Homo sapiens: one gene and its partner. The protein of the gene in region 1 purifies or fractionates together with the protein of each later gene. This does not show direct contact. Each region holds a gene or a part of one and is shown in the gene's direction. Other genes may lie near its edges.

Region 1 (3,657 bases):
TTCCTTTTGAAGTGACATTATTAAAGTTGGATGAATGAGAAAAAGTGAGTTGAATGCTTTCTCTTCTTAGAAAACTTTGATTGCTATGGAGATGCACATGACTGACAGTCCTGAACTTCATGTGTGTTTAAGGCCTGGATACCATGGCAACAGTTATTGTGAAAGATTGATGATTTTACTTAATCATGTTGGACCCTACATACATTTGCATAAATGTTCCTCTATAATGTTTACCCTTCACAGAAGAGCCTAGATAACATTTGAAGTGTACATGTTAATGATAACCTGTAACCATAATTCTTTCCACATTAAGGATGAACTACTAAGTAGAAAAAAGAGAGAAAAGAAAAAAAAGACTGGCAGCAAGAGTGTGGATGTATCAAAACTCGGTGCTTCAGAAAAAAATGAAAGGTGAGAGCATATAAAAATACTTTATAATTTGAAGCTGTTTTAAAATACATCTTTAATATGATTCAACTTCATATGTATGTCTATTTACATGTGCTCTCATTTATATCTGTGGTAGTCTTATAAAAGACTAATAATGTGCCATTGTTTATGAGACAAGTTCTAATCTTAAGCAAAATGTCTTCAGGTTTTTTCCCCCATATAAAGTGTGACTATATATTTAAATAATCCCTCAAATTCTTCTAGTTTGAAATTTTTATACTGAACTTTAGAAACAAAGTACTATTAGACGGACCTATCACTTAGCTCAGGAGTGACAGTATGTAGAGAGGCAGTGATATGCAGTACACTCAAAAAGATACCACCATTTCTTCTATTGATTCATAGAAAGGAATAAAGGGTTTAAATAGTTCACACAGCAGGGCATGAACTGGGATCAATGTGGGATGGAGATCAGAGACTATTCTGCCTGTCATCTATTCTGATGACATCAGTGAGTAATGCTTCAGTGAACTGCAAATGACATTAATTTTTATGTATTGGTTTGTTTATGCTACAGTCTTCATATCTGGTTGTCAGCACTTGGGAACACTCTGATGATGGTTAGTTTTTTATAGCTGAAGTAATCATAAGGCTTAAGAATTCGTTGTACAAAAGTGATGAAAAGCCCAGGTTAGAAAGAAGGCTTTTGTTTATCTTTGTAACTTGATTAGGAGCCTCCTTCCCCAAAATCTTAGCCTAGATTCTCTTACATGCTATATATATTGCATTTGTTGTGACTACTGTATTTCATGATGGAGTAAGTCAGTTATAAATATTTCAGTGCATACTTTCTTCATTTTTTTTGTTGAAGTAGCCATTCACAAAAGAATTCATGATCTTTATAGAATTATTTTGCCTCCCAACTTTCTCTGTATATTCCTCATATGTTGTATGGTGTTCTTTTTTCTCCCTCCCTTTAGATTGCTGATGAAACCACAGTGGCATGATTTGCTTCCATGCAAACTGGGGATTTGGTTTTGCCTTACACTAAAAGCATTACCTCACCTCATCCAGGTAAAATGTACCTCTTTTATATAACATTAGATCTTTTATTTTTAATCACTCATGAAATAATTTATGCCCATGTCGGCTCTCTGAATGCTGATATGCAGTGGATGCTTTATAATGTTGATTGAGTAGGATTTTTATAAGTTAAACCTAATTTAGATAATTCTAAGATAATTTAGATATGTTTCTGTAATTATCTTTTATAATGGTTTTAGATCACCTTAGAGTCCCAAGATGCTAGAAAAAGAAAAAAACATACTATCTTTAGTACAGAGATAAAAGCAATAAAAATTTAATCCACTGTTATCATTAAAAGCATAACCAGTAAAAAGGAACAGTATTCAAGTAGCTTGCCACCCATTATTTTAATAGCATTTAAGTACATAGTGTTAAAAAAAAAAAAAAAAAACTTTACATGAACATCTGTATAATTGTACCAAAATATATATTGCTTTCCATTTTATTTGCAAATTTAAGAGGAGTGAGGACATTTTGTCTTATACAGGTAATGAGTTTCTGTTTCTATTTAGTCTTGATTAAATAATAAAATGTGGATATGTATCATATTTAGATGTCAGTTTCTTTTATTTTTTTACATTTAGTATACCAAAGCATATTTTATTAAATTATTGCTTTGTTAATTTTGATTTTTGCATCAGGTTTGAAAATCCCCAACACATAAATATTTGAAAGTAAATAAAACACTTTTTGGTGTACAGATTTTGAGGTTGAGATTGTAATTTTTTGGAGAGAAATGTTTTATTTTAGAAAATAAGTGTTTATAATCTAGAGGACCAGATAATATTCTAATTCAGTTCTACCCACTTTGTAGTTATATATTAGAGCTATTTTTCCTGATTTTTTAAGGAAGCTAATGACTACAACTTCTGCATTTTCCTTTATTTTTCTCATAATGAAAATTTTATATTTAAAGGGGATATTGAACCAAAATACTAGTGTGCTTCTTTTTATCCTTTGAGAAATTACCAGTTCTTCCATCAAAATAGTTCATCTTAATAGTTATTGCTTATAGAATCTTATATTTTGTTTACAGTTAATAGAGAAAAATTACAGTATTTTGGTAATTTAAAAGGTTTGTTTTTAAGTTGTTTAGTGTGTTATATTGTTTGCTTGAAAAAATACTCTGCAATGTTTGTATGCTGTCTGTAAGACTTAATGAGGGAGGGAAAGTCTTTATCACACTGGTATGTTTATGAGAAAATGAGGCAGAAAATATTTTTAGGGCAGATTTTCTTATTTTTTGAAGTCTGATTATTTTTTGCCAACTTTAGAATCCGTGCAATAGGCAAACCAGAATATAGATGAGTTAAAAAGTATATTCATGAGGCAGTATAAATAGAATATTACATAAGATATCAATATTAAACACTTCTTTGTAATTTTAATCTAATTTGAAATAAAATTTATTTGGTAAAATTAACATATTTCTTGTTTAGCATGCAGGGTAATTTGCCAGACTAGAACCAACATATTGTTATGGCTTAGATTTATAATTTACTTTAAAATACTTGCCTGTGATAGCTGTTAATTCATGTAATAGATTGATTGTTTTGCCTCATCATAAATTTGTAGAAAATATACAAAAATGAGGAATTTTACAGAAACTTTTTAGTTTCTTTAGAAACTCTGCTTTTTTTAACTGATCACTTTGAATTTTAAAGTTTTTACTTACTTGATGGTATCTGCTGGCCTTTCGGTTTTGAGATGCTAGGCATTAGGGTTCCAAGACCTTTTAAATCTAATTTTTAAATTTTATTCTAATTATTTCTTCTTGATAAATGGATTTCAAGAAGAAAATTAAGATGATTTTCCTTTTTAAAGGAAATATTTGATATTTTTATTCTGCTGTGGGGACCTTAGATTAGTGTTTCTAGTGGTCACTAACAAAATAATGTAATGCAGTAGACTCTTTCAAATATATATTATAATACTTTAGAAAGTACTTTAGATTGATTGCTTATGAAATACATTAGCAAAACAATACTGTTCAGTTGCTCTCAGGATTAGATTTTTGTCGCTTTTTGTTTTGTAGTATGTGATGACCTTTGTATTAATTTTAGATCTTCTTAAATACGATATTTATGAAATTTACAACAAGTCTTTTTCACCCGAAGTTATCTGGATTGGTAATTGGAACAGTGGTCAAAAAGGAGCCCTGTTAAGGCTCTAAGAATAAAA
Region 2 (3,657 bases), on another chromosome or scaffold:
GGGGCTGAGTTGGGAGGACTGCTTGAGCCCAGGAGTTTCAGGCTGGCAACATAGCAAGACCTTGTCTCTTAAAAAAAAAAAAAAAAAAAAAAAAAAAAGTTTGCTTAGTTCTGCTGCTGGAAATTAACACTTAAGGGTTAGAGTGCATTCCTGACATAGTCTGAAATACTGTTATTAGAATTAAAGCCAGAGGCCATGCACGGTGGCTTACATCTGTAATCCCAGCATTTTGGGAGGCTGAGACGGGCGGATCACCTGAGGTCAGGAGTTTGAGACCAGCCTAGCCAACATAGCAAAACCCTGTGTCTACTAAAAATATAAAAATTAGCCAGCTGCAGTGGCATGCACCTGTAGTCCCAGCTACTTGGGAGGCTGAGGCGGGAGAATTGCTTGAACCCAGAAGGCAGAGGTTGCAGTGACCCAATATCACACCAGTGTACTCCAGCCTGGGTGACAGAGTGAGACCCTGTCTCAAAAAAATAAAAATAAAAAAACAATAATTAAAGCCAGTAAACTATAAACACTGGGCATTTTATGTTACCAATAGGGAGAGAAGGCATTAATTCAAAGAAGGAACAAAGTTCCTTATTCATAGTTTGAATCCTCATCATTATCCATGGTGATTGCTTTGCAGTCTTCCATCTTGGGTATCCTCAGAACCTTCAAGAGGGAGAAGAGGCCAGGTGTGGTGGTACATACCTATAATCCCAGCACTTTGGGAGGCCAAGGTAGGAGGATTACTTGAGCTCAGGAGTTTGAGACCACGCGGCAAGATAGTGAGACTCCGTCTCTACGATAATAATAGTAAAAAAATCTATTTTAAAAATTAAAAGAGGGAGAAAAACTTAGGGAGGCTTATATTGTGGGTTCCTGGGTAGATTGTCTTACTGCAGTTCGTAGAACATGAATACTTGAAAGAAGATATTAACGGAGCTCTCTGAATTCTTTAAAACGCCAGAAAGGGTAAGCAGATTTCATAGACTTGGGACTGTGTCCTATATTATATACGATGTTTGGAGAATCATTGCTGAGTGGTAAAGAGGTCCAGGATTTTCTAGGAAATGTAGTCTGGTATAGAGATGGGAAACTAGAAAAATAATATAAATGGCTACTATGTACAAACAGGCTCTTAGCATACATTATTTTTAATCCTCTAAATTCCTGCAGGGTGGTAATATTATCCCATTTTACAAAAGAAAAACTCAAAAGCAGGTGGTAGAGGTAGAATTCAAACCCAGGTCTGTTTGACACCAAAGCCCTTTTCTTTCTTTCATAACACATGCTGTCTTTAAAAATAGGACTTTTCTTTTTTCTTTTTTTTTTAGATGGAGTCTTGCTTTGTCGCCAGGCTGTAGTGCAGTGGCATGACTTGGCTCACTGAAACCTTCCCCTCTCGGGTTCAAGCAGTCCTCCTGCCTCAGCCTCCGAGTAGCTAAGACTACAGGCGCATGCCACCATGCCCAGCTAATTTTTGTATTTTTAGTAGAAATGGGGTTTTACCATGTTGGCCAAGATGGTCTTGATCTCTTGACCTCGTGATCCACCCGGCCCGGCCTCCTAAAGTGTGGGGATTACAGGCGTGAGCCATGGTACCTGGCCAAAAAAAAAACCAGGGCTTTTCAAAGCCAAGAGATGAAGCTGAAAGGTAGAATTAAATATTTCTTATAAACATATGTATATAAATTATTCAAATGACAGTAGGAATACAAACTTTTTTTATTGTTTAGACATAGTTATGCTATATTGGTAAGCTAATGAGTTTTTAAGAAAACAATTTTTTTTTTTTTTTGAGACAGAGTTTCGTTCTTTGGCCCAGGTTGGAGTGCAGTGGCACAATCTTGGCTCATTGCAACCTCTGCCTTCCAGTTTCATGCGATTCTTCTGCCTCAGTCTCCCCAGTAGCTGGGATTACAGGCATGCACCACCATACCTAGCTTATTTTTGTATTTTTAGTAGAGACGGAGCTTCACCATGTTGGCCAGGCTGGTCTCAAACTCCTGACCTCATGATCCGCCTGCCTCGGCCTCCCAAAGTGTTGGGATTACAGGCATGAGCCACGCACCCATCCCAGGAAATAATTTTTATAGATTTAAGAGATAGCTGAATCCTAGTGTTTTATGATTCTTTACTGGAGAGAAAATCAGCATTCCATTCAATCTCTGAGATAATTCCAGGGGAAAAGCTGTTCTGACTCTTACAGCCTTTTGACAGTATACTGTTCTCTGTATTTTTTTGGAAGCATGGACTATCCTCCTTACCTTCTTGGTTTTTTTGTTTGTTTTTCTGAGACAGGGACTTGCTCTGTCACCCAGGCTGGAGTGCAGTGACCCCATCACAGTTCACTGCAATCTCGACCTCTGGGACTCCAGTGATCCTCCCACTTCAGCCTCCCAAGTAGCTGGGACTACAGGTGTACACCACCACACCCTGCTATTTTTTTTTTTTTTTTTTTTTTTTTTTTTTGAGATGGAGTCTCACCCTGTCGCACAGGCTGGAGTGCAATGGTGCGATCTCGGCTCACTGCAACCTTTGCCTCCCAGGTTCAAGTGATTCTCCTGCCTCAGCCTCCTGAGTAGCTGGAATCACAGGCGTATGCCACCGCGTGTGGCTAATTTTTGTATTTTTAGTAGAGACAGGGTTTCACCATGTTGGCCAGGCTTGTCTCAAACTCCTGACCTCAGGTGATCCACCCGCCTCAGCCTCCCAAAGTGCTGGGATTACCAGCGTCACTTAGACGTCAGCCACTGTGCGCAGCCTAATTTTTAAATTTTTTCTAGAGACAGGGTCTCCTGATGTTGCCCAGGTTGGTCTCAAATTCCTGGACTCAAGCGATCCTCCAGCCTCAGCCTCCCAAAGTGCTGGGATTACAGGCATGAGTCACTGCGCCCAGCCTATCCTCACCTTGAAACCTTTTTATTCTTGACTTCCAGAGGTTTAATTTTGATTATTCGTTCTTCTCAATTTTTCTCTCTGCTCTCCTTTCTCTTCTCTAAGGGTAGGTATTCCTCAAGATTCTTCCCTTGAACATCCTCTCCCAGAGCCTTCTTAGGTAACTAATTGTTTGTTTTAGTGAGATATGATTTACAAGGTGTTTGATTTTGAAGTTTCTCTGTACAGATAATTCACAAGTCTGTATCTCTGGCCTTACTTTATTTAAGTTCCAAACTTAAATTTGTTCGTCAGTACCTTCCTAACATGTCGGCTTGGATTTTAAATTTATTCAGAATAATTTCTCATCCCACCTGCCAGCTTCTCATTTGTGTCACTTGATTTTCTCTGGGCGCCAGACTAAGAACTTGTCCTTCTTAACTCAGCTTTGTAACTGCTTATTGAGCTAAACATTATCTACCTTTACAACGATTCTCATGTTGATCCCTTTTTAATTCCTTTTGCCATCAACCCAAGACAGCCCCTCATTACTTCTTATCTTGGCAACTATAATAGCTTTTAAACTTGTTTCTCTTTCCTTTTCCTTCATTTCAGTCCATCTTATTATCTTTGACAAAATAATTTCTCTGATGCCTGACTGCCTGCCCCCCAACAACAAAGCTTTTATTATACTTCTTAACTAATCAACTATACCTTACCATCTAGCCAAAGTAGACTACCCATATATGTTTCTTGACCATGTCAGGTTTTTAACCTCCATATCTTTTC

What was found. Proteins that work in one complex are often made in the same cells at the same time.
Region 2: the proteins of DNAJC1 (region 1) and DCAF8 purify together in Homo sapiens (affinity purification with mass spectrometry, with the first as the bait; one large-scale study listed by BioGRID). This does not show direct contact.

The regions. Positions count from the first base shown.
Region 1 is NC_000010.11:21,916,586-21,920,242, reverse strand, and holds part of DNAJC1 (dnaJ homolog subfamily C member 1 precursor), read left to right. Parts: intron 1-313; coding exon 314-411; intron 412-1,370; coding exon 1,371-1,464; intron 1,465-3,657. UniProt on the Homo sapiens protein: May modulate protein synthesis.
Region 2 is NC_000001.11:160,252,454-160,256,110, reverse strand, and holds part of DCAF8 (DDB1- and CUL4-associated factor 8), read left to right. Parts: intron 1-3,657. UniProt on the Homo sapiens protein: May function as a substrate receptor for CUL4-DDB1 E3 ubiquitin-protein ligase complex.